3 separate regions of the Homo sapiens genome follow, and regions 2 and 3 are each linked to region 1. Evidence: fine-mapped expression QTL. A gene starts in region 1. Each other region holds a variant in brackets. All regions are shown on one strand. Distances are from middle to middle.

Region 1 (8,779 bases):
ACAAGGTCAGGAGTTTGAGACCGGCCTGGCTAACATAGTGAAACCCTGTCTCTACTAAAAATACAAAAATTAGCCGGGCATGGTGGTGCGCACCTGTAGTCCCAGCTACTTGGGAGGCTGAGGCAGGAGAAACGGTTGAACCCAGGAGGTGGAGGTTGTGGTGAGCCGAGATTGTGCCACTCCACTCCAGCCTGGGCAACAGAGCAAGACTCCGTCTCAAAAAAAAAATAAGTAAAATAAAATAAAATAAAATGTATTTGAAACTGGGTGTGGTGGCTCATGCTTATAATCCCAGCTATTCAAGAGGCTCAGGTGGGAGGATCCCTTGAGGACAGGAGTTGTAGACCATCCTGGATAACATAGCAAGACTTTGTTACTTTCTTTCTTTTTTTTTTTTTGAGACAGAGTCTCGTTCTGTTGCCCAGGCTGGAGTGCAGTGGCACGATCTCGGCTCACTGAAAGCTCTGCCTCCCGGATTCATGCCATTCTCCTGCCTCAGCCTCCTGAGTAGCTGGGACTATAGGCACCCGCCACCATGCCCAGCTAATTTTTCGTATTTTTTTTTTAGTAGAGACGGGGTTTCACCGTGTTGGCCAGGATGGTCTTGATCTCCTGACCTCGTGATCTGCCCGCCTCAGCCTCCCAAAGTGCTGGGATTACAGGCGTGAGCCACCGTGCCCGACCAAGACTTGTTTCCTAACAAACAGGGCCAGTTGCAATGGCTCATGCCTATAATCCTAGCACTTTGGGAGGCCAAGGAGGGCAGATGGCTTGAGGCCAGGAGTTCGAGATTGGCCTGGACAACATGGTGAAACCCCATCTCTACAAAAAAACACAAAAATTAGCCAGGCATGGTGGTGCTGGCCTGTTGTCCCAGCTACTTGGGAAGCTGAGGTAGGAGTATCACTTTAGCTCAGGAGGTCAAGGTTGCAGTGAGCCGAGACTGCACCACTGCACTCCAGCCTGAGCAACATGGTGATACCCGTCTCAAAAAATAATAATAACAAATAATGAATAAATGCAATTTATTTTAAAGTGAAACTTGCATTTCCTTTTTTAGCCTCTGTACAAGGAAAAATCATTGCTCCTCCTATTTCCTCAATCTCTTTCCACTTTACCACCTGATAAAATTTTACTTTATAAAGCATGAGAGCAAAGCTACCTCCTCCATAACACTTTCCTCTAGCTCTCTCAGCCCAAAGTGAATTTCCCAACCTCTTAACTCCAAAATGAAGTTGTTAATGCCTTGTGTAGAGCATACATTCCATCTCACATTATGGTTAGTTGCTGTACAAGATTAGACATTCCTTAAATAGAGAAACTATTTCTTATTCACTATAACCACAAAATGCTCTATCCTTGCCACTCATACTATAAACCCCTATGGTTCTAGGTCCTGCCCAAAACATAAATGGGTGGTATGGACGCCGTATCACCTTACTAAACTGTGACATTTTGGGGATTAGGAACTTTTGGCCAAGAGGGAGACTCACGCCTATAATTCCAACACTTTATTTATTTATTTATTTTTGAGATGGCGTTTCGCTCTTGTTGTCCAGGCTGGAGTGCAATGGCGCACTCTCAGCTCACCGCAACCTCCGCCTCCCAGGTTCAAGCGATTCTCCCGCCTCAGCCTTCCAAGTAGCTGGGATTACAGGCACGTGCCACCACGGCCCGGCTAATTTTGTATTTTTAGTAGAGATGGAGTTTCTCCATGTTGGTTGGGCTGGTCTCAAACTCCTGACCTCAGATGATTCGCCCGCCTTGGCCTCCCAAAGTGCTGGGATTGCAGGTGTGAGCCACTGCGCCAGGCCTCATTATTATTATTATTTTTTTTGAGACCAAGTCTTGCTCTGTTGCCCAGGCTGGAGTGCAGTGGCACTATCTTGGCTCACCGCAACCTCCGTCTCTTGGGTTCAAGCAGTTCTCCTGTCTCAGCCTCCAGAGTAGCTGGTATTACAGATGCGCACCACCACACCCATCTAATTTTTGTGTTTTTAGTAGAGACAGGGTTTCGCCATGTTTCCCAGGCTGGTCTCAAACTCCTGGGCTCAAGCGATCCACCCACCTCAGCCTCCCAAAGTGCTGGGATTATTGGCATGAGGCACAGAGCCCGGTCTGTAATCCCAACACTTTGGGAGGCCAAGGTAGGAGGATCACCTGAGTCCAGGAGTTCAAGACCGGCCTGGGCAAAATAGTGATACCCCATCTCTACAAGAAATAAAAAAATTAGCCAAGTATAGGGGCATGCACCTGTGTTCCTCGCTACTCGCGAGGCTGTGGTGGGAGGATCACTTCAGCCCAGGAGGTTGAGGCAGCAATGAGCACTGATGGTGCCACTGCACTCCAGCCTGGGTGACAGGGCAAGACCTCATCTCAAAAAAATAAATAAAAAGTGAGCTTGCTCACCTTTCCTATGTCTCTCAGCACCTTGCTTTTGAATTTTAGCTATTATTTTTACAGATCTTTTAACAAAAAGGCTGCTTTAATTAACGTTAACTAACATACATGGCATATAAGAAGATCCTTGTTCTCAAGGGCTTTACAAACCTCTAGAGTCAAATGTGCCTTATTATCAGTACAAAAATAAATGGTGTCAGCTGGGTGCAGTGACTCACACCTGTAATCCCAGCACTTTAAGAGGCTGAGGCAGGTGGATCACCTGAGGCCAGGAGTTTGAGACCAGCCTGGCCAACATGGTGAAACCACATTGTCAGGCCTCTGAGCCCAAGCCAAGCCATCGCATCCCCTGTGACTTGCACGTATACATCCAGATGGCCTGAAGTAACTGAAGATCCACAAAAGAAGTAAAAATAGCCTTAACTGATGACATTCCACCATTGTGATTTGTTTCTGCCCCACCCGAACTGATCAATGTACTTTGTAATCTCCCCCACCCTTAAGAAGGTTCTTTGTAATTCTCCCCACCCTTGAGAATGTACTTTGTGAGATCCACCCCTGCCCACAAAACATTGCTCTCAACTTCACCACCTATCCCAAAACCTGTAAGAACTAATGATAATCCATCACCCTTTGCTGACTCTCTTTTCGGACTCAGCCCGCCTGCACCCAGGTGAAATAAACAGCCATGTTGCTCACACAAAGCCTGTTTGGTGGTGTCTTCACACAGACGCGCATGAAACACATCTCTACTAAAAATACAATAATCAGCTGGGCGAGGTGGCTCACAGCTGTAATCTCAGCACTTTGGGAGGCCGAGACAGGCAGGTCACTTGAGGCCATGAGTTCGAGACCAGCCTGGCCAACATCGTGAAAACCCCATCTCTACCAAAAATACAAAAACTAGCCAGATGTGGTGGCGCACGCCTGTAATCCCAGCTACTCGGGAGGCTGAGGTACCGAATCGTCTGAACGTGGGAAGTGGAGCTTGTAGTGAGCCGAGATCGCCCCACTGCACTCCAGCCTGGGCAACAGAGCTAGACTGTCTCAAAACAAACAAAAAATGGTGTCAAGACTCTCAGACGAGATTCTAATGGATTAAGGCCTATATGTAAATAGCACCAAAGACTATGGAACAGAGATGGGAGAAGCAAGCAGGGAGGCAGGAATAGTTTAGCTGTGGCAGTTTTAGCTTAGTCCACTTACATAAATGGTTCTTTAGGGTAGCACGTGGAGCATCCTCATTTCCAAACATTGGACTGAGAGTAGAGAGCTGTGCAAAATAACCACAAGTCCCCAACTATGCCCTCTTAATTATCCCTATCATCTAAGACTGTTGTTCCCATCCATCACTGAACTTCCCCGTCCTCTTCCTTCAACCCCTGTGTTAGTCAATGGTTGAAATTTTGATTTGGTAAAAAACCTCTGGCGAAAACCAGCAAAAAGGGCTCACAAATCAGGTCTCAGGGAAGCACAGAGGTAGCCACGAGAAGGCCCGAGGTGCTCATGGAAAGAGCTCGAGCCCAGGAGCTCTGGGAGGACCCCAGGCGCTCGGAGCCGCCGTTACGTAACCGGCACTCAGAGCCTCCGAAGACCGGAAGGCCCCGCTCAGGCCCCGGCTCAGGCCCCGGCCCCGGCCCCGGCCCCGGCCCCGCCCCGGCCCGGCCGGGCAGCTGGTAGGTGCCGTGCGCAACCCTCCGGAAGCTGCCGCCCCTTTCCCCTTTTATGGGAATACTTTTTTTAAAAAAAAAGAGTTCGCTGGCGCCACCCCGTAGGACTGGCCGCCCTAAAACCGTGATAAAGGAGCTGCTCGCCACTTCTCACTTCCGCTTCCTTCCAGTAAGGAGTCGGGGTCTTCCCCAGTTTTCTCAGCCAGGCGGCGGCGGCGACTGGCAATGTTTGGCCTCAAAAGAAACGCGGTAATCGGACTCAACCTCTACTGTGGGGGGGCCGGCTTGGGGGCCGGCAGCGGCGGCGCCACCCGCCCGGGAGGGCGACTTTTGGCTACGGAGAAGGAGGCCTCGGCCCGGCGAGAGATAGGGGGAGGGGAGGCCGGCGCGGTGATTGGCGGAAGCGCCGGCGCAAGCCCCCCGTCCACCCTCACGCCAGACTCCCGGAGGGTCGCGCGGCCGCCGCCCATTGGCGCCGAGGTCCCCGACGTCACCGCGACCCCCGCGAGGCTGCTTTTCTTCGCGCCCACCCGCCGCGCGGCGCCGCTTGAGGAGATGGAAGCCCCGGCCGCTGACGCCATCATGTCGCCCGAAGAGGAGCTGGACGGGTACGAGCCGGAGCCTCTCGGGAAGCGGCCGGCTGTCCTGCCGCTGCTGGAGTTGGTCGGGGAATCTGGTAATAACACCAGTACGGACGGGTCACTACCCTCGACGCCGCCGCCAGCAGAGGAGGAGGAGGACGAGTTGTACCGGCAGTCGCTGGAGATTATCTCTCGGTACCTTCGGGAGCAGGCCACCGGCGCCAAGGACACAAAGCCAATGGGCAGGTCTGGGGCCACCAGCAGGAAGGCGCTGGAGACCTTACGACGGGTTGGGGATGGCGTGCAGCGCAACCACGAGACGGCCTTCCAAGGTAAGGGGGTTCATTAATCGCCAAGGCCTCACTCCCTTTTTTCCATCTCTCCCCGGACTCACCCGCCAAGGGTGGGTTGGAAACCGAAACGAGTCAGTGTTGAAACGTGTCTCATCCTATTCCTGAAGCCAGAATATTCTGGCCATGAGTCATTGTTTCCGCCCATCTTGATTCTTTTGGAAATGGCAGCTCTTGTTCAAAGACCGGAAAGGGTGGGATGTCAATTTCAAGTGGGGTCAACCTGAGTTCTGTAAATCCCAGTAGCGATTTTCCCGCCGCGGGTGGGCAGGCGAATCTTGCGCCGGTTTAGACAAAGGAGGCCGTGAGGACCTGCATGCTTTTCTTTCTCAGGCATGCTTCGGAAACTGGACATCAAAAACGAAGACGATGTGAAATCGTTGTCTCGAGTGATGATCCATGTTTTCAGCGACGGCGTAACAAACTGGGGCAGGATTGTGACTCTCATTTCTTTTGGTGCCTTTGTGGCTAAACACTTGAAGACCATAAACCAAGAAAGCTGCATCGAACCATTAGCAGAAAGTATCACAGACGTTCTCGTAAGGACAAAACGGGACTGGCTAGTTAAACAAAGAGGCTGGGTAAGTTTGCCTTAAGGATGAAAGGGGCCTTGGAGTGGAAGTAGAATGAAGGATTTTTTTTAGAGAGGTGGGGATATCTAAAGGTTTTTATGACGCACGGCTGTTTGCAGGCTCTAACTAAAGGACCATTGTTTATTTGATGTTGATTTAAGTAGTGGATCCTTAGAGATAGTGGTATGGCGGTCTTGAATTGTATCAAAAATCTTGGTTTTCTCTAGGCAATTTTTTGTTCCAATTCAGTTGAATACTCTTCAGTGGATTCAAACCATGAAAAAATAAGTCACCAGGGGAGGATAGCTGAAATAATTCCTAAGGCGGTGCCTGTTTTAATGGAGAAGATATGGGGTGGAGCCTGCGTTTTAAACAAACCCAGATCTGATGCAGGATGTACTTAACTACGTTGAGAAAAACTGATCTGCGCAATTGAGGCGTTACTGAAATATTAGGTGGTGGAGATTTGAGAATAAGGGTTTTCGTCTTTTACCTCATGGGAACTCTGGAAGTCCTTTTGTTAGGATAAATCCTAATAAGACCAAGATAGTACTGTAAAATGAAGTTTAATTATCATGGGTCCCCGCTTAAGAAACTGAAGAACTTATTTTCTTTTTTTGCCCCGGGGTGAATAATAATTGGTTTACTATTGCTTTAGGGGGAAACCTTAGATATTTTAATTTACCTTCTCTCTGGATAGTAGTGTTGTAAGAGAGCAGAAACCCATACTTGAAAATGTGCTTTTCTTTTTTGTTTTCTAGGATGGGTTTGTGGAGTTCTTCCATGTAGAGGACCTAGAAGGTGGCATCAGGAATGTGCTGCTGGCTTTTGCAGGTGTTGCTGGAGTAGGAGCTGGTTTGGCATATCTAATAAGATAGCCTTACTGTAAGTGCAATAGTTGACTTTTAACCAACCACCACCACCACCAAAACCAGTTTATGCAGTTGGACTCCAAGCTGTAACTTCCTAGAGTTGCACCCTAGCAACCTAGCCAGAAAAGCAAGTGGCAAGAGGATTATGGCTAACAAGAATAAATACATGGGAAGAGTGCTCCCCATTGATTGAAGAGTCACTGTCTGAAAGAAGCAAAGTTCAGTTTCAGCAACAAACAAACTTTGTTTGGGAAGCTATGGAGGAGGACTTTTAGATTTAGTGAAGATGGTAGGGTGGAAAGACTTAATTTCCTTGTTGAGAACAGGAAAGTGGCCAGTAGCCAGGCAAGTCATAGAATTGATTACCCGCCGAATTCATTAATTTACTGTAGTGTTAAGAGAAGCACTAAGAATGCCAGTGACCTGTGTAAAAGTTACAAGTAATAGAACTATGACTGTAAGCCTCAGTACTGTACAAGGGAAGCTTTTCCTCTCTCTAATTAGCTTTCCCAGTATACTTCTTAGAAAGTCCAAGTGTTCAGGACTTTTATACCTGTTATACTTTGGCTTGGTTTCCATGATTCTTACTTTATTAGCCTAGTTTATCACCAATAATACTTGACGGAAGGCTCAGTAATTAGTTATGAATATGGATATCCTCAATTCTTAAGACAGCTTGTAAATGTATTTGTAAAAATTGTATATATTTTTACAGAAAGTCTATTTCTTTGAAACGAAGGAAGTATCGAATTTACATTAGTTTTTTTCATACCCTTTTGAACTTTGCAACTTCCGTAATTAGGAACCTGTTTCTTACAGCTTTTCTATGCTAAACTTTGTTCTGTTCAGTTCTAGAGTGTATACAGAACGAATTGATGTGTAACTGTATGCAGACTGGTTGTAGTGGAACAAATCTGATAACTATGCAGGTTTAAATTTTCTTATCTGATTTTGGTAAGTATTCCTTAGGTTTTTCTTTGAAAACCTGGGATTGAGAGGTTGATGAATGGAAATTCTTTCACTTCATTATATGCAAGTTTTCAATAATTAGGTCTAAGTGGAGTTTTAAGGTTACTGATGACTTACAAATAATGGGCTCTGATTGGGCAATACTCATTTGAGTTCCTTCCATTTGACCTAATTTAACTGGTGAAATTTAAAGTGAATTCATGGGCTCATCTTTAAAGCTTTTACTAAAAGATTTTCAGCTGAATGGAACTCATTAGCTGTGTGCATATAAAAAGATCACATCAGGTGGATGGAGAGACATTTGATCCCTTGTTTGCTTAATAAATTATAAAATGATGGCTTGGAAAAGCAGGCTAGTCTAACCATGGTGCTATTATTAGGCTTGCTTGTTACACACACAGGTCTAAGCCTAGTATGTCAATAAAGCAAATACTTACTGTTTTGTTTCTATTAATGATTCCCAAACCTTGTTGCAAGTTTTTGCATTGGCATCTTTGGATTTCAGTCTTGATGTTTGTTCTATCAGACTTAACCTTTTATTTCCTGTCCTTCCTTGAAATTGCTGATTGTTCTGCTCCCTCTACAGATATTTATATCAATTCCTACAGCTTTCCCCTGCCATCCCTGAACTCTTTCTAGCCCTTTTAGATTTTGGCACTGTGAAACCCCTGCTGGAAACCTGAGTGACCCTCCCTCCCCACCAAGAGTCCACAGACCTTTCATCTTTCACGAACTTGATCCTGTTAGCAGGTGGTAATACCATGGGTGCTGTGACACTAACAGTCATTGAGAGGTGGGAGGAAGTCCCTTTTCCTTGGACTGGTATCTTTTCAACTATTGTTTTATCCTGTCTTTGGGGGCAATGTGTCAAAAGTCCCCTCAGGAATTTTCAGAGGAAAGAACATTTTATGAGGCTTTCTCTAAAGTTTCCTTTGTATAGGAGTATGCTCACTTAAATTTACAGAAAGAGGTGAGCTGTGTTAAACCTCAGAGTTTAAAAGCTACTGATAAACTGAAGAAAGTGTCTATATTGGAACTAGGGTCATTTGAAAGCTTCAGTCTCGGAACATGACCTTTAGTCTGTGGACTCCATTTAAAAATAGGTATGAATAAGATGACTAAGAATGTAATGGGGAAGAACTGCCCTGCCTGCCCATCTCAGAGCCATAAGGTCATCTTTGCTAGAGCTATTTTTACCTATGTATTTATCGTTCTTGATCATAAGCCGCTTATTTATATCATGTATCTCTAAGGACCTAAAAGCACTTTATGTAGTTTTTAATTAATCTTAAGATCTGGTTACGGTAACTAAAAAAGCCTGTCTGCCAAATCCAGTGGAAACAAGTGCATAGATGTGAATTGGTT
Region 2 (8,779 bases), 32 kb before region 1:
TCTTTGTGCTATTTTCTCTAGAAGCACCTAGCTCCCTGGGTACAAGAGCAGGGACGACATTATTGTTTAGATCCTGAGTCAGGATTTGTAGACAGATAAAGTATACTAAGAAGGAAGCAAGGGGATGAAAGTGCTGGTGAAAGATTAAAGAATCTCTCTGATTATAGCTAGATAAGAAAATAGGCTAAGGAAGTTGTGATAAACTGGTCAAGCCAGGCGCGGTGGCCCACACCTGTAATCCTAGCACTTTGGGAGGCTGGGGTGGGTGGATCATGAGGTCAGGTCAGGAGTTTGAGACCAGCCTGGCCAACATAGTGAAACTCCGTCTCTACTAAAAATACAAAAAATTAGCTGGGTGTGGTGGCGTGCGCCTGTAATCCCAGCTACCAGGGAGGCTGAGGCAGGAGAATCTCTTGAACCCGGGAGGCAGAGGTTGCAGTGAGGCAAGATTGCGCCATTGCACTCCAGCCTGGGCAACGAGCAAAACCCTGTCTCAAAAAAAAAAAAAAAAAAAAAAAAAAAAAAAAAAACCTCTGGTCAAGAGAATTCTTTGTTTCTTTCTCTATTATTTATTTATTTTTAAGAGAACTCTTTATAAGGTCAAAGAGCAGATGATTTAGAAGCAGAAATGATTAACCTGGAAGTTCAAAACATTGTAGCAAGAATATAAAATTTTAGATTGGAGCCAGGTGGTGGCTCATGCCTGTAATCCCAGCACTTTGGGAGGGGAAGATGGCTTGTGCCCAGGAGTTCGAGACCACCCTGGGCAACAAAATGAGACCCCCATCTCTACAAAAAAATTAAAAAATTAGCCATGCATGATGGCATGCACCTGTGGCCCCAGCTACGTGGGAGGCTGAGGCTGGAGGATAGCCTGAGTCCAGAAGGTGAAGGCTGCAGTGAGCTGTGTTTGCACCACTGCACTCCAGCCTGGGCAACAGAATGAGACTCTGTGTATAAATAAATAAAACTAAGAGAGTTCTCACATCGAGCTGTGAAGGTAGTTTGCTAATTTATCTGGGGTTTTGCTGTTATCTTTTGTTAAAAATCAACTTGCTGGGGTGAGGTGGCTCACATCTGTAATGCCATCACTTTGGGAGGCTGAAGGGGGAGGATCACTTGAGTACAGGAGTTTGAGACCAGCCTGGGCAATGTAAGGAGACCCTGTCTGAAAAATTAAAAAAAAATAGCCAGGCGTGTTGTCATGTGCCTGTAGTTCCAGCAATGGCAGGCTGAGGTGGGAGCATCGATTGGGCACAGGAGGTTGAGGCTGCAGTGAGCTGTGATTGCACTGCTGCACTCCAGCCTGGGCAACAGAGCAAGACCCTGTCTCAATAAATAAAATAAAGTAGCATCAAATTGATACATATCCTAGAGTAGTTATCTTTTTTTCCTCTGAGCTCCAACAAGAAACAACAGTATTTACATTTTTAACTGGAGACAAAACTCTGCATAGGAGAAATTCAAACATCAGCAGACATATGAGGGCGTTTTTTGGCAGAGGCAACTTACTGTCAATAAAGTCTCACCCCTGGTGAACGCCACCTGCTCACACGTACAAAAGGAAAGTCATTTAGTGATCATGAATCCTGGTTTGACGTTAAGGTCCATGTCTGAAGTGTCGTTTATGATTAGGGAAGTCTGAGTCATCCTTAGGCTTCCTCTATTGCATTTGAGTCATTTCCTTTTTTACAGACCCAAACTGTACAGCCCAGGATATTTCTTAAATGTCCAAAAGTACAGAGTTTTGGAACTAAAGGGACATTCGAGATCATTGAGTTCAGTGTACTCGTTTTACAAATGGTGAAACTAAGGCCAAGAGGAGCATGCCTTTGCCTGATTGCACAGCCTCTGTGGGGCAGTTTTGCCTATACCAAGAAGGGTATAGGAAAATACCCTATTCTCTAGAACCAGCTGATTTCACAGCAAATTTGGATTCTGGCTTGAATTTATTTTTGTCAGAAGTAAACTAAAAATACTTGGTCTGAAAGTCTGAGAGGGACTCAGGGCCCAGGGGAACAAGCAGGCATCTCTGGTATATCCCCCTCAAATAGTTTTTTGTTTGTTTGTTTTAGACAGAGTGTTGCTCTTGTTTCCCAGGCTGGAGAGCAATGGCGCAATCTCGGCTCACTGCAACCTCCACCTCCTAGATTCAAGCGATTCTCCTGCCGCAGCCTCCCAGGTAGCCATCACACCCAGCTAATTTTTTGTATTTTTAGTAGAGATGGGGTTTCATCATGTTGGCCAGGCTGGTCTCGAACTCCTGATCTCAGGTGATCCACCCACCTTGGCCTCCCAAAGTGTTGGGATTACAGGCGTGAGCCACCATGCCCGGCCCCCCTCAAATGGTTTTATCTGTCACACTGGTGCTCCTGCAATGGACAAAGGAGACGTTTCCTGTAGGACCAGCATCTCTTTACTCAGGTTTTTCAATCTTGGAACTGCTGACATTTTGGGCCAAGTAATTCTTTGTTGCAGGGACTGTCCTGTGCATTTCAGGATGTTTAACAGCATCTTTGTCCTCTACCCATTAGTTGCTTAGTCAGAATAATCAGAAAAGTCCCCAGACATTGCCAAATGCCCCCTGGAGTTGCCTGGTTGCCTGGTTGAGAATCACTATGCTTAAGAAAGGGGCTCTTGTTGTAATCCCAGCACTTTGGGAGGCCGAGGCGGGAGGATCACGAGGTCAGGAGATCGAGACCATCCTGGTTAACACAGTGAAACCCCATCTCTACTAAAAATACAAAAATTAGCTGGGCATGGTGGCATGCGTCTGTAGTCCCAGCTACTCGGGAGGCTGAGGCAGGAGAATGGCATGAACCCCGGGAGGTGGAGCTTGCAGTGAGCCGAGATCGCGCCACTGCACTCCAGCCTGCGTGACAGAGAGAGGCTCCATTTCAAAAAAAAAAAAAAAAAAAGCGGGGATGGGGGGCTGTTTTAACTCAGGTCTGGGCCCACTTAGTCCTCATGGCAGTATCTATTCTTATTCCTGCATCTCCATGCCTAGCTGCCTTTTTCTCACCTTTCTTTCTGGGGCTACCACACCTTTATCAGATGAGATCCTCCAACCTCTCTCTACCCTCAGTATCTCCAAAAGTGCCACCTGGGTTGAAAATGAGAAGCAAAAGCATCTACCCTTCCCCCTCTTGCACCAAGGGTATACCCTAATTAGATAGGAATTTACATAATTGGTAAAAATAAGATATCATGGGCTGGCCACAGTGGCTCACACCTGTAATGCCAGCATTTTGAGAGGCCGAGGCACGAGGAATTCTTCAGCCCAGGAGTTTGAGACCAGGCTGGGCGATGTAGTGAGACCTTGTCTCTACAAAAAAATTAAAAATTAACTGAGTGGTGGCAGGCGCCTGTAGTCCCAGCTACTCGGGAGGCTGAGGCAAGAGAATTGCTTGAACTTCGGAGGAAGAGGTTTAAGTAAGCAAAGATTACACCACCGCACTCCAGCCTGGGTGACAGAGCCAGACTCTGTCTCCAAAACAAAAGACAAAGTGCATACAAGGCTCAGCTCTTAACAATGACTGCTGTGAGTCAAGGAAAGACCCCTTCCTTGAGGGTGTGCTGGGAGGGGATAGATGAGGGCATACCAAGAGAACCTTTGCCTTTTTTGCGCAATTTCCCCTTGACTCAGCGGTCCCACTTCCCTTCCCCAGCCCACACTTGTCCTCACCAGTGCTTGTATTTAGAAATG[C/A]AAGCCCGTGTTGTCATAGAAAAACAGAAACCAGATGGTTGCTATGGAGATTTGTTTAAATACACACCTAGAACATGGCCCAGACTCTGGCAGTGGTGAGTAGCAATTCTTGCTAGGACCTGCATTTTTCTTCCTCTTAATTTGCTGTTTTCCCACCCTTTTCTATTCTTGCTACATTTTCATGCTTCTCACTCCTGCTCCAAAATGCCACTTCCCACCTACCAGTACTGTTCTTAAACATCTCCTGTGTCTCAGGAAGTCACTATTTAAGAACAGACTTATTTACCCTTTGAGCCTTAGTCCCTTCATCTGTAATATGGGAATAATGACAATAAAAACTCTATATGGGGCCAGGTGCAGTGGCTCAAGCATGTAATCCCAGCACTTTGGGAGGCCAAGACAGGTGGATCACTTGAGGTCAGGAGTTCAGGACCAGCCTGGCCAATGTGGTGAAAACCTGTCTCTACTAAAAATACAAAAATTAGCTGGGCGTGGTGGTGCACACCTGTAATCTCAGCTACTCGAGACGCTGAGGCAGGAGAATCGCTTGAACCCAGGAGGCAGAGGTTGTAGTGAGCTGAGATCGTGCCACTGCACCCCAGCTTGGGCAACAGAGCAAAACTCTGTCTTTAAAAAAAAAAAAACAAAAAAACCAAACAAACAAACAAAAAAAACCTTATATGGGCTGGGCTGGGCGTGGTGCCTTATGCCCACAATCCCAGCATTTTGGGAGGCCAAGATGGGAGGATCACTTGAGCCCAGAAGTTTGAGACCAGCCTAGGCTACAGAGTAAGGCCCCATCTCTACAAAAAAACCTTAAAAATTAGCCAGGTGTGGTGGCACGCACTGTGGTCCCAGCTGTACCAGAGGCTGAAGCAGGAGGATCCCTTGAGCCCAGGAGGTCAAGGCTGCAGTGAGCCATATCTACACCACTGCACTCCAGCCTGGGCAACAGCCTGTCTCAAAAACTAAACTAAAAACCTTATATGTTTTTGTTAGAATTAAATTAGATATACAAAAAGAGGGGCCGGGCAGGGTGGCTCACGCCTGTAATCCCAGCACTTTGGGAGGCTGAGGCAGGTGAATTACTTGAGGTCAGGAGTTCGAGACCAGCCTGACCAACATGGTGAAACCCTGTCTATACTAAAATATACAAAAATCAGTCTAGCGTGGTGGTGGGCGCCTGTAATCCCAGCTATTCGGGAGGCTGAGGCAGGAGAATTGCTCGATCCCGGGAGGCAGAGGTTGCAGTGAGCCGAGATCATGCCACTGCACTCCAGCCTGGGCGACAGAATGAGACTCCGTCTCAAAAAGAAACTTGTATCATGGCTAGCAAAGTGGAATTTGGTTTTATGCTAAAATAAAATCCTAGAGCCAGGTGTGGAGGCGAGTGCCTATAATCCCAGCTACTCAGAGGCTGAGGCAGGAGGATTTGTTGAGACCAGGAGTTCAAGACCAGCCTGGGCAACATAATAAGACCTCATCTCAAAAAAAAAATAATAAAGTAAAATAAAATAAAAATCCTACTCTAGGGCACCTGGGAACCAACCAGTGGTGCCTTTGGAAATCTTGGTTTATGCTTCCTCTCTGACAGTAGGAAAAAGCTATTGTGGGAGTTTCTCCTGCCATGTAGAGTGATGGAAGAGCAGAATTGTGGAGGAGCAGGGTTGCTTTGTTTTGTCTTTGTTGTACTCAGCTGGAAAGCTGTTTAAGGAAAGAATCTGGTCATATGACCTCCTTTCTGCAATTGGAAATGAACGCCACAGGGAAAAGAAGATATAAGACACAGAATGCTCCTTGCCTGGCTAAAATGGAAGAGGACAAAGGAAGCAGAATACTTTCTGGGCTTTTGGCTTTTGCTACCCTCCTCTGGCAGACCCCTGTCCAAGACGCTGGCTGTGTTGTGTGCCAGGCTAGAGCTTGTACCTACTGTAAAATCTGTGTGTGATGTCTGTTGAGTTTTTTGGAAAACAAAAAACTTATATTTTAAAATACAAGGTATTAGATAATACCAAGGGCAGATAATTCCACCCTTGGAAATAAAAAAGATTTTCTTTTCTTCAGCTTGAATGTACTGTACAGCTGTGTTTCTGCAGTAGGTCTCAGCTCTTAGGAACGAGAAAAAGGAAAACATTACCCACTTTGCATTTCACTTCTGTTCTTTTCCTGTGAGACAGATACTACTATCTATCCTATTTTTATGGGTTAAAAAGCACAGATCAATTGAAAAAGAACTGGAAGGATAACTGCTAAACTGAGAACTGTTACATCCAGGCACGTTGACTCACGCCTGTAATCCCAACACTTTGGGAAGCTGAGGCCGGTGGATCACGAGGTCAGGAGATCGAAACCATCCTGGCCAACATGGTGAAACCCCATCTCTACTAAAAATACAAAAATTAGCTGGGTGTGGTGGCGTGTGCCTTAATCCCAGCTACTCGGGAGGCTGAGGCACAAGAATCGCTTGAACCTAAGAGGCGGAGGTTTCAGTGAGCTGAGATCGCACCACTGCACTCCAGCCTGGCACCAGAGCAAGACTCTGTCTCAAAAAAAAAAAAAAAGAATTGTGGTCACTTCCAGAAAAGAATTAGGGGAGTGAGATTGGAAGTGGTAATCATAGGAACTTTTGTGTCATCTATATTTTCCTTTTTTCCAAGGAAAATATTCATATATTAATTGTTTAATTAAAAATTAAATTTTGGCTGGGCGCGGTGGCTCACGCCTGTAATCCCTGCACTTTGGGAGGCCGAGGTGGGCGGATCACGAGGTCAGGAGATCAAGACCATCCTGGCTAACATGGTGAAACCCCGTCTCTACTAAAAAATATGACAAAAATTAGCCGGGCGTGCTGTCGGGCGCCTGTAGTCTCAGCTACTCTGGAGGCTGAGGCAGGAGAATGGCGTGAACCCCGGAGGCGGAGCTTGTAGTAAGCCGAGATCTTGCCACTGCACTGCAGCCTGGGCGACAGAGCAAGACTCCGTCTCAAAAAAAAAAATTTTTTTTAAGTTTTGTGCAGTGGCAGTATCATAGCCAATGAGGTTTGTCCAATGTACAATTATTGCTAATTGAAAACGTTTCAGGCCAAGCACAGTGGCTCACGCCTATAATCCCAGCACTCTGGGAGGCCGAGACAGGCCAATCATGAGGTCAGGAGATCGAGACCATCCTGGCTAACACGGTGAAACCCCCGTCTCTACCAAAAATACAAAAATTAGCTGAGTGTGGTGGCAGGCGCCTGTTAGTCCCAGCTACTTGGCTGAGGCAGGAGAATGGTGTGAACTCAGGAGGCGGAGCTTTCAGTGAGCTGAGATCGCGCCACTGCACTCCAGCCTGGGCGACAGAGCGAGACTCTGTCTCAAAAAAAGTTTCAAGCCAGGCACGGTGGCTCACGCCTGTAATCCCAATACTTTGGGAGGCCAAGGCGGGTGGATCACCTGAGGTCAGGAGTTCGAGACCGGCACAGCCAACATGGCGAAACCCCATCTACTAAAAATACAGAAATTAGCCGGGTGTGGTGGCACACGCCTGTAATCTCAGCTATTCAGGAGGCTGAGGCAGAAGAATCACTTGAACCTGGGAGGTGGAGATTGCAGTGAGCCAAGATTGCACCACTGCACTCTAGCCTGGGCAACAGAGTGAGACTCCAGAGTTGAGACTCTGTCTCAAAAGAAAAAAAGAAAAGGTTTCTGTTGGGCCAGGCCCAGTGGCTCACACCTGTTATCCCAGCACTTTGGGAGGCCAAGGCAGGCAGATCCCTTGAGTCTAAGAGTTTTGAGACCAGCTTAGGCAACTTAGAGAGACCCCGTCTTTACAAAAAGTTAGCCAGACATGGTGGCACATGCCATGGAAGGCTCACTTGAGCCCGTGAAGTCGAGGTTGCAGTGAACTGTGATCTTGCCACTGCACTCCAGCCTGGGTGATGGAGTGAGACCATGTCTCAAAAAAAAAAAAAAAGAATTTTCACATATCCCACTGTGGTAACTTACAATATAGTTGGCATTGGCAATTTTTGACAGTCTCTACAGAGACTGACTTTAAAAAAAATAAATAAATTTCAGGCTGGGCATGGTGGCTCATGCCCACAATCCCAGCACTTTGGGAGGCCAAGGCGGGTAGATCACCTGAGGTCAGGAGATTGAGACCAGCCTGGTCAACATGGTAAAACCCTGTCTCTACTAAAAATACAAAAATTAGCTGGTGGTGACGCACACCTGTAATCCCAGCTACTCGGGAGGCTGAGGTAGGAGAATTGCTTGAACCCAGGAGGCAGGAGGTTGCAGTGAGCTGAGATTGTGGCATTGCACTTTAGGCTAGGCGACAAAAGGGAAACTCCGTCTCAAAAAATAAATAAATAAATTTCAAATTGAAAGGTGAGGCTATTTTATAATTTTTTTTTTTTTTAATTTGAGACAGAGTCTCAGTCTATCATCCAGGCTAGAGTGCAGTAGTGCAATCTCGGTTCAGTGCAACCTCCACCTCCCGGGTTCAAACAGTTCTATTCTACCTCAGCCTCCCAAGTAGCTGGGATTATGGGCACCCGCAACCACACCTGGCTTATTTTTGTATTTTTAGTAGAGATGGAGTTTCACCATGTTGGCCAAGCTGTCGAACTCCTGACCTCAAGTGATCTGCCCGCCTCAGCCTCCCAAAGGCTTATGCCCACAGGGTTGAGCCACGGCGCCCGGCCCTATTTTACAAAATTGTAATGAAGCTGAGAAAAGATAATTCATCTAAGATCACTTGATAAATGACAGACTCCAAAGCCCATGGCTACTTGACCAAATCACTTTGCTCTGTATACATCCGTATAGAGAACTAGGTTTGGAGCCAAGAGGGACTCCTGATTTATCCCTCTCATGGGCAGTAGGTTTGTTATAGTGAGCCCTTGGCCTTAGCTTGGTTTTCTTTATCAGTAAAGGAGAGCATGACCAGATCATGCCATACCAACTTGATGGCCTAGGCCTAGGGCTTGGCTTGTGAGGTGTGACTAAATCACATAGCCTCAGATAAGGAATGAGGGAAGATTTAAAGCAGGATTGATAAAGCAGATTATGTTTTATACTTAACAAAATC
Region 3 (6,739 bases), 190 kb before region 1:
ACAATAGCAGTTAATATGTCACTTGTTCTTTTTCTCACAAAAGGTAATTCATCTCTATTCTCCCTGCCTTCCATAAGTAAAATTTTGGTTTCTTCTACGACCTACATATTAACCAGGGGTCATGTATATCAGACAAATAAACACAGTCTCTGCTTACTTACTGAGTCCAAAGGCAGGCTGGGAAGAAGTGAGTATGTCCCTGAGAGCCCTGTTTCATTTTGGGATCAACTCAATTTAGTTTCTTGGTAAATCTGGAATTAATTTATGGATTTAGAAATAAACAAAGGAAGACATTTAGATGGCCGCTGCCGTCCTGAATCCGGTTTAGAGTACCACTAGAAAACACAATTAACCCCAAAATTTTTTCCCACTTGGTAGAGGATTACCGGAAACAGGTAGAGACATAATTTCATACACAATTCCATGTAGGCAATACCCAGGAATGGAGACAGAAGGTGTGCTGTTGCCTAATCACCACGTTTATGCTCTGTACTGAGTGTAGATTTATAGACCTCGTCAGACAGAGAAACAATGACTGGAAAAATACATGGTCCCTTGTAAAAGCAGTTGTCTACCATTTAATCTTGATGGAAAGAAATTTGTTCCTATGCTAATTTCTCATTAAGGAAATTGAACTGTCTATTTCTATGGATAGAAATACATATAGAGGTATCAAGGCTAAAAGCAAAAAACATCAGGTATGAGATCAGATGTGTAAAGAAGGATAGAGAAGGCAACCTGAAATTATTGAGAGCTCCACAATAGCTTTCTTCTTGAGTTTCCTGTATTCGCAGCCTGAGAAAAGCACCTTCCCCATTCTAGCTTCTGACACTCCACCCTTGTTTTTCCAAACTCAACACGGCTGTGGATGTCAATACTAGGTTCATCTATCCGGGTACTACAGTTTATTTAAAATGTGCAGGAAGCAGCCAGGCGCAGTGGCTTGCGCCTGTAATCTCAGCACTTTGGGAGGCCAAGGCGGGCGGATCATCTGAGGTCAGGGGTTTGAAACCAGCCTGGCCAACGTGGCGAAACCCTGTCTCTACTAAAAATACAAAATTAGCCTGGCGTGGTGGCGCATGCCTGTAATCCCAGCTACTTGGGAGGCTGAGGCAGGAGAATCGCTTGAACCCGGGAGGCGGAGGTTGCAGTGAGCCGAGATCATGCCATTGCACTCCATCCTGGACAACAAGAGTGAAACTCCATCTCAAAAAAAAAAAAAAAAAGTGCCGGAAACTCAAAGAACCTATGAAAGGCCAGAAAGTCGGTGAGGTTTGTTTATTGTGTAACCACAAACATCACCAAAACCACAGAGAGGACTGCTCAACCTATGATGCCACTGAGCAGACACAATATTTGACATAAACACTACAGTTTGAACAGGTGACACTGGGGACCAGATATTAGAATATCTGCTGCTGCTCCTGCTCCTGCTGGTGCTGCTGCTGCTGGGAGACATCTCTACTGCCATTCTCACCAAAAGGAGGATTTTACATACTTCTGGTTCCTCACTTACCCACTTGCAAAATGATGTTCTATACAGGTGTGCCTGACTGGCAAAGGCTAGGTCTCATGTCTGTGCCTTAACTGCACTGGATCCTTGAAAATGGAGCTTTGGCTTCAACTTGGAGAAGCAAAATTTATAACGTGGGAAATTCTCCAAACATGGGAATATTGTTCAAAAGATGCTAGGTGGCCATAAAAATAAATGAACACTGTATATACTACTGTGGAGTTATCAGAATTTAATTGCTAAAGTATAGTTTCTAAAAAGCTGAGAGCAAATATACAACGAACGCATCGAAGTTTAACTCATTAATTAATAAGGGATCAGTAAGATTAAAGTCAGTTCAAATAAGAATTTGAGGCCGGGCATGGTGGCTCATGCCTGTAATCCCAGCACTCTGGGAAGCCGAGGTGGGTGGATCACCTGAGGTCAGGAGTTCGAGACCGGCCTGGCCAACACGGTGAAACCCTGTATCTACTAAAAATGCAAAAATTAGCTGGGTGTGGTGGTGTGCATTTGTAATCTCAGCTACTGGGGAGGCTGAGGCAGGAGAATCGCTTAAATCCGGGAGGCGGAGGTTAGAGTGAGCTGAGATCGCACCACTGCACTCCAGCGTGGGCGATGAAGTAAGGCCGTGTCTCAAAAAAAAAAAAAAAAGAATTCGACTGACAGAGATCTACATTCTCTATTTCTCTATTCAGTGAAATCTACAATACAAAATTTATTTGCATTGCCATGTATAGGGATCATTTGCATAGTTATCAGTTTTTTACAACTTAACTCTAAAAAGAATCAAACAATTCCTGTAAAGGTCCACTAAATAATACCCAGCACATCACTGAAAGGACACCTGCTAATGTCTTTCGCCTGAATAATTTTTCTTAATAAAATGTTAAGTGATTGACTAAAACAAAAAAAATGCTAAGTGAAAAAAACAAGATAGAGAAAAATATGTGTAATATGTTAGTGTTCACTTAAGATGAAAGAATATTAATATATAGGCATATTTGCATATTTCTAAAAATAGGAAGATAAACCATAAATTTTTTAAATGATTACCAATTAAGGAAAAAAGGAAATCGTGTAAAACAGACAAAAGTAGAGGCTAGAGTTCTTTGAATATACCTCATTGTGATGATTTCACTTTGGATCCACATAAATGTTTTACATAATTATAAAATGAAATTACATAAGTGTAAAAAGCAAGCCCTAAAAGGAAGAAGTGAAATGAAACAAATAAACCTGTGTATGGAGGTGGAGCATAACCATACAGGGAACTATTCCAGGTGACTTCAAAACACAGTAATTGACTTACATCGTTAGCGACATTTGGCTTAATGGAGAAAAACCTGTCCCCCTCCACTTTAAAACCTCTAATTTGTTTTCATTAACAATCTTATTGGCGTAGGCTTGTTGTTGTTATTCTGCAATTTTACAGGATAAATTAAACAAGTACTTGAGTTGATATTTTAGAGAACCCAGATTTTTTAAGCATGTTTGAAAAGAAGTGCAGATATAAGATTGATGGGGTGAGTAAACCCTATAGTCTTGAATTTGAATTTGAAGTATCAGTGTCAGCTTGTGATTTATTTAATTTTTTTAAAAAAGATATTTCTTAGCTCTAGCTACTGAAAAGGCTTAGCAACAATGGTCAATCTGCTATCCCAAACACTGCTAGTTCCTAGATTATGGTATTTAAACATTGTTTCCACTAAAAGGAACCAGAGCTCCTTGGAGAAATGGCTGATTCCAGGTCTGGGGCAGGAATTGTTCAAGACAAACCTGCAATAGCCTGTCATATTAGAAAGAAAGGAAGCTTTTAAAGAGTACTAATATTATGCCAAATATACAAACTCTGTCTGCACCAAAGAGCCAGTTTGAATAAATTCCTACAGACCAAAAATGAGACAATATGAGTATCAATAAGGATAAAACTGGAATGGATTGAAACACATCAAATATGTTTAAATCCATGAATTCATAATGATATAAACATAACTCAATGGTTTCACAATATATGGAGCTTATTTAAATCTCAATTCAAACAAACTATTAAAAAATGTATAAGACAGTCCAGAAAATGTGAACATTGATAGGATGTCTGATGACATTAAGAAATTATTGTCTTAATTTCTTATGACAATAAAGTGGCTCACACCTGTAAACCCAGTACTTAGGGAGGCTGAGGTGGGCAGATTACCTATGGTCAGGAGTTCGAGACAAGCCTGGCCAATGTGGTGAAACCCCATCTCTACTAAAAATACAAAAATTAGCTGGGTGTGATGGCACATGCCTGTAATCCCAGCCACTTGGGAGGCTGAGGCAGGAGAATCGCTTGAACTCGGCAGGCAGAGATTGCAGTGAGCTGGGATCACACCACTGCACTCCAGCCTGGGCAAGTGAGTGAGACTCTGTCTCAGAAAAAAAAAAAAAAGAAAATTATTGTTCATTTATTTTAGATGTGATGATGGTATTGTGGTATTATATTTGTTTAATAGTCTCTGTCTTTTAAAGACACACACAGGGACATTTACGTATGAAATGACAGAATGTCTAGAATTTATTTAATATAATTCAGGTAGTGAGAGTGGGAATATAAATAAAATAAGATTGGCCATGTACTGATCATTGTTGAAACAAGACAATGGTTTCACGGCAGCTCATTTTACTACTATTTTTACTTTTACATGTGTTTTAAATTTTCCATAAGCAGTATCTTTTTAAAAAAAACTGTATGGCTACAAACACAAACATGTCTACTACAGCTGAGATGAATCAACATTATAATGATGTTACTTCTCCCTAAATTTATGCATATATTCAAATAAAAACTCTAATAGCCAGATGTGGGGGCTCATGCCTGTAATCCCAGCACTTCAGGAGGCCAAGGTGGGCAGATTGCTTGAGCCCAGGAGTTTGAGGCCAGCCTGGGCAACATGGTGAAACCCCTTATCTACAAAAAACAAAAAACAAAATCAGCCAGGCATGGTGGTGTGCACCTGTAGTCCCAGCCACTCCAGAGGCTGAGG[C/T]GGGAGGATCACTTGAGCCCAGGAGGTCAAGGCTGCAGTGAGCCATGATTGCATCACTGCACTCCAGCCTGGGTGACAGAATGAAACCCTGTCTCCAAAAGAAAAAAGCAAAAAACTCCAACAGAGTTTTTCAGGGAACTTGATAAACTGATTCAAAAAATTCATATAAAGAAGAGTTAACAAGTACAAAATACAAAGACAATGTTTAAAAAGAAGAACAAAGATAGGGTGGCCTAGATGACTTGCCTTACCATACGTGGAGACATATTACAAAGCTGTTTTAATTAAAACTGTGTGATACTGAAGTAGCAAAAGATAAAAAGAACAGCTTCATGAGCTCAGAAACTGACCTATCTATGTATGAGAATTTGGTGTACAATAGAGGTAGAATCAAAATTGGAAAACAAAGAAAATAAGCTCCCTACGTCATACCATACACAAAACTAAATTCCAGGTGAATTAAACACCTAAAAGCAGTAGCCATAGAAAAGATAAATAAAACACTCTCTGAAAGTATAAAAATAAGATGAGTGTATCTTTATTACATTTGGATGAGGAAAATTTTCTTATACAAAAACAGTATAGATTGATTATACGGAAAAGCTGAATAAAATGTTCTACCTCAACATAAAAAAATTTCATATAGAAAAACTCACTATAAACAAGACTAAAGGACAAGTGGAATTTCATAGGCTTATGCAAAGGAAGAAAAAATAAAATAAAAGACAAGTGGAAGACTAAGGGAGGATGTTTTTAAGGGTATATAACTGTCAAAGATTAGAAGCCAGAATATATTTTTAAAACACATACACCTTGGCCGGGCACGGTGGCTCACACCTGTAATCCCAGCACTTTGGGAGGCTGAGGCGGGTGGATCACGAGGTGAAGAGTTCAAGACCAGCCTGGCCAAGATGGTGAAACCCTGTCTCTACTAAAAATACAAAAATTAGCTGGACATGCTGGCAGGTGCCTGTAATCCCAGCTACTTGGGAGTCTGAGGCAGAGAATCGCTTGAACCTGGGAGGTGGATGTTGCAGTGAGCCAAGATCGCACCAATGCACTCCAGCATGGGAGACAAAGCACGACTCCGTCTCGGAAAACACACAACACACACACACACACACACCTCCCACAAATCACTAAGAAAATGCAACAATACAATAGAAAAATGAGCAAAAAAGATGAACAGGAAATTCACAGAAAATTCAAACGGTCAATAAATGTGTGAAAAGATCCTCAACCTCATTAGTAATTAGGAAAATGCAAATTTAAAAGATGATAGTTCGTCTTGCTCCCACCCCACCCAGGTAATCATTCTCAATTGGATATATTTGAGTGTATCCTTTTTTCCATGAATATACTAACACATACACACACACACACACACACACACGCATATTACTAAACTATACATATAGTATATATTAATAAAGACATTTTGAGTTTGATGAACGAAGGAATGGCTGAGTGAGAACCAGACAATATCAGATCATGAATGAGTTGTGTTAAAAGCAGTAAGACAGGTTTTCCTAGGAAATCATACAAGGAGCTGGGATTTGGGGAGCTTTATCTAAATCTCTTTATAACTAAATGTTTTCCATGTAAAAGTTGGTGTTTTTAAAATTCAATTTAATTTTTTTTTTGAGATAGGGTCTTGATATGTCATCCAGGCTGAAACACAGTGGCATAATCATGGCTCACTGCAGCCTTGTCCTCCTAGACTCAAGCAATTCTCCCACCTCACCCTCCCCCTCAGCTGGGACTACAAGCATGCACCACCATGCCCAGCTAATTAAAAAAAATTTTTTTGCAGAGACAGGGTCTCACTATATTGCCTAGGCTGGTCTTGAACTCCTGGCCTCAAGTGATCCTCCCGCCTCAGCCTCCCAAAGTGCTGGGATTATAGGCATGAGCCACTGGGCTCAGACAAGGGCTCTTCTTGATGGCTTACTGTATCCACTTTGTCCCCAAGACCATAGGGAAATGACTAGAGGTGACTGTACTAGCTAGATTTTAAATGAAACTGAAATGAAAGTTCACTTCCTCATTTTGAGTACCTCATGTGACAAGTTCCAATTTCTTTTCAAGTCAATTGAACTGAAATCTCCTTGTTGCTTTGAAATCTTAGAAGAGAGCCCACTAATTCAAGGACTCTTACTGTGGGAGCAACTGCTGGTTCTATCACGTATGTACTCTTTGTTCT

Alleles and levels. Positions count from the first base shown, and alleles are read on the strand shown. Sizes are in standard deviations (SD) of each study's normalised expression. Not every link is listed here.
With allele C in place of T in region 3, the expression in whole blood of the gene that starts at base 4,216 in region 1 is higher (small effect, 0.17 SD a copy in GTEx).

The links.
Region 2: its variant is fine-mapped to the expression of MCL1 in whole blood (TOPMed, PIP above 0.99).
Region 3: its variant is fine-mapped to the expression of MCL1 in whole blood (GTEx, PIP 0.96).

What each region holds. Positions count from the first base shown.
Region 1 is chr1:150,575,047-150,583,825 of GRCh38, reverse strand. MCL1 (MCL1 apoptosis regulator, BCL2 family member) reads left to right here and starts at 4,216. Exons shown (of 3, transcript NM_021960.5): 1 at 4,216-4,983; 2 at 5,335-5,582; 3 at 6,335-8,779. The coding sequence starts at 4,296. The coding sequence ends at 6,451. It overlaps LOC107985203 (a long non-coding RNA gene), which reads right to left and starts at 3,996. Exons shown (of 3, transcript NR_186818.1): 1 at 3,607-3,996. RefSeq lists silencers at 3,906-4,245, 4,316-4,445 and enhancers at 4,019-4,313, 4,362-5,079, 5,080-5,798, 4,759-5,958.
Region 2 is chr1:150,606,555-150,615,333 of GRCh38, reverse strand. No RefSeq gene overlaps it. Among named protein-coding and RNA genes, the nearest start is that of ENSA, 19 kb to the left of the region's middle. RefSeq lists enhancers at 3,547-3,841, 6,182-6,868. The variant C/A (reference allele first, on the strand shown) is at 3,707.
Region 3 is chr1:150,765,680-150,772,418 of GRCh38, reverse strand. CTSS (cathepsin S) reads left to right here and starts at 6,641. Exons shown (of 8, transcript NM_004079.5): 1 at 6,641-6,721. RefSeq lists a silencer at 1,311-1,430, cis regulatory regions at 6,695, 6,698 and enhancers at 6,623-6,739, 6,626-6,739. The variant C/T (reference allele first, on the strand shown) is at 4,537.